3 separate regions of the Homo sapiens genome follow, and all the other regions are linked to region 3. The links come from fine-mapping of genetic effects on gene expression. A gene starts in region 3. Each other region holds a variant in brackets. All regions are shown on one strand. Distances are from middle to middle.

Region 1 (2,765 bases), 510 kb before region 3:
TTTGAGTCCTATCATGCAAAGGGAAATAACTTCACATAAAAAATAGACAGAAGCATTCTCCAAAACACCTTTGTGATGCTTACATTCAACTCACAGAGGTGAACCTTTCTTTTGATAGAGCAGTTTTGAAACACTCTTTTTTTTAGAATCTGCCATTGGTTATTTGGAGCGCTTTGAGGCCTTTGGTGGAAATGGGAATATCTTCAGATAAAAACCAGACAGAAGCATGCTCAGACACTACTATGTGATGTTTGCATTCAGCTCACAGAGTTGAACCTTTTTGATAGAGCAGTTTTGAAACACTCTTTTTGTAGTTTCTGCAAGTGGATATTTGGACTCCTTTGAGGACTTCGTTGGAAATGGGAACATCTTCACATAAAACTAGACAGAAGTATTCTCACAAACTTCTTTGTGACGTGTGCATTCAACTCACAGAGTTTTACCTTCCTTTTGATATAACAGTTTTGAAACACTCTTTTTGTAGAATCTGAAAGCGGATGTTTGGAGTGCTTTGAGGCCTTCAGTGGGAATGGGAATATCTTCACATAAAAAACAGCAGAAGCATTATAAAAAACGTCTTTGTGATGTGTTCATTGAATGCAGAGAGTTGAACGTTGCTTTTGGTAGAGTAGTTTTGAAACACTCTTTTTGTAAAATCTGCAGGTGGATATTTGGAGCACTTTGAGGCCTATGGTGGAAAAGGAATTATCTTCACACAAAAACTAGACAGAAGCATTCTGAGAATCTTCTTTGTGATGCTTGCATTGAACTCACAGTGTTGTACCTTCCTTTTGATAGAGCAGTTTTGAAACACTCTTTTTGTAGAATCTGCAAGTGGACATTTGGAGAGTTTTGAGGCCTGTGGTTGAAAAGGAAGTATCTTCATATAAAAACTAGAGAGAAGCATTATCAGAAACTTCTTTGTGATGTATGCATTCAACTCACAGAGTTGAACCTTCCTTTTGATAGAACAGTTTTGAAACACTGTTTTTGTAGTATCTGCAAGTGAATATTTGAAATGCTTTGAGGCCTACTGCGGAAAAGGAAATATCTTCACATAAAAACTAGACAGAAGCATTCTCAGAAACTTCTTTGTGATGTGTGGATTCAACTCACAGAGTTGAACCTTTCTTTTGATAGAGCAGTTTTGAAACAGTCTTTTTGTAGAATCTGCAAGTGGATATTTGAAGCACCTTGAGGCCTATGGTAAAATAGCAAATATCTTTACGTAAAACTAAACACAAGCATTCTCAGAAATGCTTTGTGATGCTTGCATTCAACTAACAGTTTTGAACCTTCCTTTTGATAGAGCAATTTTGAAAATCTTTTTGTAGAATCTGTAAGTGGATATTCAGAGCGCTTTGAGGCCTATGGTGGAAATGGGAATATCTTCACATAAAAAGTTGACAGAAACATTCTCAGAAACTACTTTGTGATGCGTGCATTAAACTCAGAGAGTTGAACGTTACTTTCAATAGAGCAGTTTGGAAACACT[C/G]TTTTTGTAGAATCTGCAAGTGGATATTTGGAGCGCTTTGAGGCCTATGGTAGAAAAGGAAATAGCTTCATATAAAAACTAGACAGAAGCGTTCTCAGAAACTTCTTTGTGATATATGCACTCAACTCATAGAGTTGAACCTTCCTTTTGATAGAGCAGCTTTGAAACACTCTTTTTGTAGAATCTGCCAGTGGATATTTGGACTGCTTTGAGGCCTTCGGTGGAAACGGGAATATCTTCACTTAAAAACTAGACAGAAGGATTCTGAGAAACTTCTTTGTGATGTGCACATTCAACCCACTGAGTTGAAACTTTCTATTGTTTGAGCAGTTTGGAAACAGAGTTTTGTAATATCTGCAAATGGATAATTGGAGATCTTTGACACCTACGGTGGAAAATGAAATATCTTCACATAAAAACTAGACAGAAGATTTCTTGGAAACTTCTTTGTAATGTGTGCATTCATCTCACAGAGTTGAACATTTCTTTTTTTGAGCAGTTTTGAAACACTCTTTTTGTAGAATCTGCAAGTGGATATTTGGAGCCCTTTGTTTCCTATAGTGGAAAAGGAAATATCTTCACTTAAAAGTAGACAGAAGCATTCTCAGAATTTTCTTTGTGATGTGTACATTCATCTCACAGAGTTGAACCTTTCTTTTGATTGAGCAGTTTTGAAACACTCTTTTTGTAGAATCAGCAAGTGGATATTTCGAATGCTTTGCGACCTATAGTGGAGAAAGGAATACCTTCACATAAAAACTAGACAGAAGCATTCTGAGAAACTATTTTGTTATGTGTGCATTCATCTCAGAGTGCTGAACTGTTTTTTTATTTGAGCGGTTTTGCAACACTCTTTTTATAGAATCTGCAAGTGGATATTTGGAGAATTTTGCCACCTATAGTGGGAAAGGAAATATCTTCACATAAAAACAAGACAAAAGCATTCTGAGAAACTCCTTTGCAATGTGTGCATTCATCTCAGAGAATAGAACTTTTCTTTTGATTGAGCAGTTTTGAAACACTCTTTTTGTAGAATCTGCAAGGGTGTATTTGGGGCGTTTTGAGGCCTGTGGCGGAAAAGGAAATTTCTTTACATAAAAACTCTGCAGAAGCATTCTGAGTCACTTCTTTGTGATGCGTGCATTCATCTGATGTAGTTGAACCTTTCTTTTGATTGAGTAGTTTGGAAACACTCTATTTGCAGGATGTGCAAGTAGATATTTGGAGCACCTTGATGCCCATGGTGGAAAACAAAATATCTTCACATAAA
Region 2 (2,765 bases), 70 kb before region 3:
AAATGTTTCTTTATAGACTGTACAAAAAGAGTGTTCCCAACCAGGCAAATCAAAATACACGCTTATATCTGTTAGATGAATGCACATATTACAAAGCTTCTTCACAGATAGCTTGTTTATAGTTTTAATTCTGGGATATTCAGTTTTTTCACTAGAGGCCTCAATGGGCTCAGAAATGTTCCTACGTAGATTCTACAAAAAGGGTTTTCCAACCTGTTGAATCAAAGCACAAGTTTCATTCTTTGAGATGAATAGACGAATCACAAAGCATTTTCACAGAAGGTTGTTTCCAGTTTCTATTGCAGGACATTCGGTTTTTCACTAGAGGCCTCAAAATGCTAAAAAGTATCTCTGTAGATTCTACAAAAAGAGTGTTCTGAACAATGTTGAATCAGAACAAAGGTTTAACTCTGTGAGAAGAATCCACACATTACAAAGCATTTTCACAGATAGCTGCTTTCCATTTCTTATCACAGGAATTTCGGGGGTTTTTTTCCCCCATAGGTTTCAATGGTTTCAGAAATGTTTCTTCGTAGAGTCTACAAAAATAGTGTTTTTAACCTGTTGAATTAAAACAAAGGCTTAATTCTGTGAGATGAATCTACAATTCACAAAGCATTTTTGCAGATAGCTTGTTTCTACTATGTATCACGGGATATTCGGTTTACCTTTATAGGCCTAACTGGGCTAAGAAATGTCCCTTTGTCTGTTCAACAAAAAGAGTGTTTCGAACCTGGTGAATAAAAACAAATGTTTAACCCTGAGACACTCATCCACACTACACAAAGTATTTTCGCAGATAGATTTTTTCTAGGTTTATTGCAGGATATTTAGTTTTTCACTATTGGCCTCAATGGGTTCAGAAATGACCCTTCGTAGCTTCTATAACAAGAGTGTTTCCAGCCTGTTGAATCAAAATAAAGTTTGAAATCTGTGAGATGGATCCATGCATCACACAGCATTTTCACAAATAGATTGTTTCTAGATATTAATGCAGGAGATTCATTTTTTCACTATAGTCCTCAAGGGGCTCATAAATGTTTCTTTGTAGATTCTACCAAAAGAGTGTTTCACCCTTGTTGAATCAAAACGAAGGTTTAACTGAGTGAGATGAATTCACCCATTGCAAAGCATTTTCACAGCTAGCTTGTTTCTAGTTTTTGTCATGAAGTATTCAGTTGTCCACTATAGTGTACAATAGGGACAAAGATATTTCTTCATAGATTCTTAAAATAGAGTGGTTCCAACCTGTTAAATCAAAACAAAGGTTTAATTCTGTGAAATAAATCTACACATCTCAAAGCATTTCCACGGATATCTTGTTTCTAGTTTTTATTGCAGGATATTCAGTTTTTTGCTATAATCTCCATAGGCTCAGAATTGTCCCTTCGAAGATACTACAAAAACAAGTTTTTTAACTTGTTGAATCAAAACATAGGTTTAACTCAGTGAGACGAATCCACATATTGCAAAGCATTTACACAGCTGTTTTGTTTCTAGTTTTTATTGTGGGATATTCATTTTTTTGCTATTGGCCTCAATGGGCTCAGAAATGTCTCTTTGCAGATTCTACAAAAAGAAGGTTTCAACTTGTTGAATTAAAACAAAGTTTTAACTCTGCAAGATAAATTTGTACATCACAAAATTATTTCACAGAGAGCTGGTTTCTGCTTTTTATTGCAAGAGATTCACTTC[G/A]CAATAGGCCTCAACGGGCTCAGAAATGTTTTTTCATAGATTCTACAAAAAGAGTGTTCTTAACCTGTTGATTTAGAACAAAGGTCTAACTCTCGATGAATCCACACATCAAAACTCATTTTCATAGTTTGTTTTATATTTTAAAATGGGATATTAGCTTTTTCACTACAGACTTCAATTGGCTCAGAAATTTTTTTCATAGACTCTACAAAAAGAATGTTTCCAAGGTGTTGAATAAAAACAAAGGTTATCCCTGTGAGATGAATGAACGTATCACACAGCATTTTCCCACAGAGGTTGTTTCTATTTTTGCTCACGGGATTTTTGATTTTTCACTATAGGCTTCAATGGGCTTTGAAATGTCCCTTTATATAATCTACTAAAACAGTGTTTCCAATTTGTTCAATCAAAACAAAGGTTTAAATCTGTGACATGAATCCACATATTGCAAAGCATTTTCACAGATAGCTTTGTTTCTAGATTTTAAGGTGCATTATACCTTTTTTTACTGTAGTTTTTAATGGTCTCAGAAATGTCCCTTTGTAGATTCTACAAAAAAAGTGTTTCCAACATGTTGAATCAAAACAAAGCTTCATCTCTGTGAGATAAATCCACACATCACAGAGCATTTTTGCAGATAACTTGTTTCTAGTTTCTATCCCGGGATATTTGGTATATCACTATACACCTCAATTGGCTAAGAAATGTCCCTTCATGCATTCCACAAAAGAGTGTTTCCAAACTGGTGAATCAAAACACAGGTTCCATTTGGTGAGATAAATGCATACATCACAAAAAATGTTCACAGATAGCTTGTTTCCAGTTTTTATTGACGGATATATGGCTTCTTGCTATAGGCCTCAATGGGCTCAGAAATATTCCTTCGTAGATTCTACAAAAAGAACGTTTCTAACCTGTTAAATAAAAACAAATGTTTAACTCTGTGAGATTAACCCACACATCGGGAACCATTTACACGGAGAGCTTTTCTTCTAGCTTTTATTGCAGGATATACAGTTTTTCTCTACAGGCCTCAGTGGGCTCAGAAACGTCTTTTCATAGATTCTACA
Region 3 (2,765 bases):
TCAGCCACATTTACCCCCTCTTCAAATAATAACAATGCTCTTCCAAAGAATACAACAGAATTTAGTCTCTATAACTAATATTTATAATTTCTATTACACAATATTAAAATTCATAAAATGTGTGAAGAAATGTAACATGCAAACTATACACAAGATAAAAAGCAGGCAGCAGAAGCTATTTCTAAGATGTCCGAGATGATGTAATCAGCAGACAAGTATTTCAGGGCAGCTATTATAAGTACGTTCATGGGGGTAAAGGAAAATATTCTCATAATGAATTAACTCATGTAGAGTCTCAGCAGAGACATGGAAATTATAAAAAGAGTAAAATAGAAGACAATAAAATAATAAAATAAAAAGAACTTTTAGTTTACAGAGTAGAAACAGAAGACAGCAATATAAACCATCCAATCTGAAGACTGAAACAAGTTTAAAGAAAATGAAAAGAGGCCTAAGAGACCTGTGAAATGATTGAGTCTGAGACAGAGAGGGAGAGACAGAAAAATTAAATATAATACAAAAACAAATAAACAATAGCTGAAAATTTAAAAACTTGGTCAAAACCGCAAATTCTTATATTCAAAAGGTGAACACACTCCAAAACAAAAACAAAAACAAATAAAACCATATCGAGGCCCTACTGTGATTTAGAAAACTGGCAGAGCAAGATTTTCCAGGGAGTTGCTATGATTTCTCATTTTCACTATTTATAATAATGGAAAATATGCACTCCTTAGTTTTCTTCTTGGAGAAAGTCTGACTTGTCAAACACAGATGACTTTTCAGTTTAGTTTTCAAGGTTTAATTTCTTACCTTGGAAATCAATTAAATTTGTTTCTTTAAAATGTCGCAGTAAAATTGCTCCTCCAGACAGATGTCCACGGAGATTCTGTCCTGCTGCGTCCGCCTTTCACAGAACTGAGGTTGTTCCTACACCAGTTTCAGAAGCGTGTAGGCACGCTTTATTACAGTGGCAGCAGCGTCCCTGTGCGAGGTCTAACCCAGGTGTGGGCCCTGCAGCCAGCCCGGGGGTCCAATGGGTCCTCCTATGGAGCACAGGAAGAATCGTGGCAGGCCAGAGATAGACAAAAGGTGGCTTTTAAAAGGGAAGTGTCAGGTTACCAGGGACTGGGTACTTTTACACGCGGACCTTCGGCCCTGCCCATAGAAAGGGGCAGCACTGCGCATCTCTGAAGGAGTGTGGCAAAGGGTGGGGCAATAAGAAGGGTGGGGCAGAAAGGAGTGGCCCCTCAGGAGGAAGGGGCGGGGAGATCCCAGCTACTAGAGGACGCCCGTTCCAATGGCAACTCTGCCAAGGCGCCTATGAGAGCCTCTTGGCTTTTACCTGGTCTGCGAGAAATCAAACTTTGGGCACAAGTCATGAAGCCGACAAGCCCGGGAGACACAGTGTCAGAATTACAAGGTGAGATCAGCCGCCCGGCCAAGCTATCTTCTCGCTAGCAGGTGAGGCCCGTGAACAGCCAAGCTCCCCTTGGCACGGCGGAACCGCAGTGGACGCGTGGAGGGGCTCCGTAGAGGAGGGACCTTTGCTTGGGATGCGGGGAGCTGTAGTCTCTTATCTGCACCCAGCTTGTTAGTTGTACGCCTGCAGGACTACAATCTCAGCACAAAGCAGGATTGTAGGGCGGTGCGGATCCCTGGAGGGAGACAGCGCGGTGCGCTCCTGCCGGCCATGCTGGCTGGGGTGGTGTCTTAGGCGGTTCCAGCCGTTAGTCACAGGGCGGCCGGACTACAATCCCAGCATACAACGGGAGTGGAGGTGGTGACCTTGAGAGAGGGCCTGTGCTGTGCGCGCCTCGCGGGGCATGCTGGGAGCAGTAGCATCTTAGCTGCTTCCGGCCGCTGGTCGCAGGGCTGCGGGACTACAATCTTCGCATGAAATGGAAGAGAGGGTGGTGCGGATAGCTTGAGGAAGGTACGGATACCTTGAGGGAGGTATGGATACGTTGAGGGAGGTACGGATACGTTGAGGGAGGTTACGGATACGTTAAGGGAGGTACAGCAGCGGTGCGCGCCTTGCAGGGCATGCTGAGAGGAACAGTTTTTTAACTGCTTCTGGCTGTTGGTGGCAGAGCTGCGGGACTACAATCCCAGTATGCTACGGGAGTGGGGATGATGCTGGTCCCTTGAGGGGGGGGGGCAGCGCGGTGCCCTCCTGCCGGGCATGCTGGTAATAGTGTCTTAGCTGCTTCCGGCCGTTGGTCGCAGGGCTATGGGACTACAGTCTCAGCATGCGCAGGGTTCAAGGGTGTTGCGCAGCCCCGCAGGGAGGGGCAGGGCGGTGTTGACCTCTGTTTCCAAACCCATGCTGGCTACTGAATCTGTGCCACCCCTGGCTAAGGGGAGTGAGTCCATAGAGGGACTTGAAGGGCAGGTCTGGGCTGGGCAGTGAGGAGAGTATGATACTGCAAAGTGCGCCTCGCCTTTGCCAAAATCGGTCGGGTCTCAGGCTCACCCCACCTCCCGCTGCTCAGTTCCGTTTCCCTCCAGAGCATCAAGCCTCCTCCCGCCCAGGGGGCCTCCTGCTTTCCTAAGCTGCTGTGGAATCGGCCTGAGGTCCCAGACGCTGTCCATTGTGCTGCTGCTCTCTGCTTTCTCCAGCCAGAGTGCCAGTTCATCCGCTTTTGGGAGAACTCCGCCGCCTGGCCTGCCCGCGGAAAAGGTCACAGCTTTGCAGGGGGTGACATGGGCTATGGCTTCCTGGAAATGTCACCCTCACTAGCGCCTTTTAGATAGATGTGAAT

Evidence for each region.
Region 1: its variant is fine-mapped to the expression of LINC02987 in esophagus mucosa (GTEx, PIP above 0.99).
Region 2: its variant is fine-mapped to the expression of LINC02987 in whole blood (INTERVAL, PIP above 0.99).

What each region holds. Positions count from the first base shown.
Region 1 is chr19:27,286,474-27,289,238 of GRCh38, forward strand. No RefSeq gene overlaps it. Among named protein-coding and RNA genes, the nearest start is that of LINC02987, 510 kb to the right of the region's middle. The variant C/G (reference allele first, on the strand shown) is at 1,496.
Region 2 is chr19:27,722,620-27,725,384 of GRCh38, forward strand. No RefSeq gene overlaps it. Among named protein-coding and RNA genes, the nearest start is that of LINC02987, 69 kb to the right of the region's middle. The variant G/A (reference allele first, on the strand shown) is at 1,696.
Region 3 is chr19:27,792,187-27,794,951 of GRCh38, forward strand. LINC02987 (long intergenic non-protein coding RNA 2987) reads left to right here and starts at 1,245. Exons shown (of 7, transcript NR_146733.1): 1 at 1,245-1,423. It overlaps LINC00662 (long intergenic non-protein coding RNA 662), which reads right to left and starts at 1,754. Exons shown (of 3, transcript NR_027301.1): 1 at 1,346-1,754; 2 at 814-1,046. RefSeq lists an enhancer at 1,487-1,966.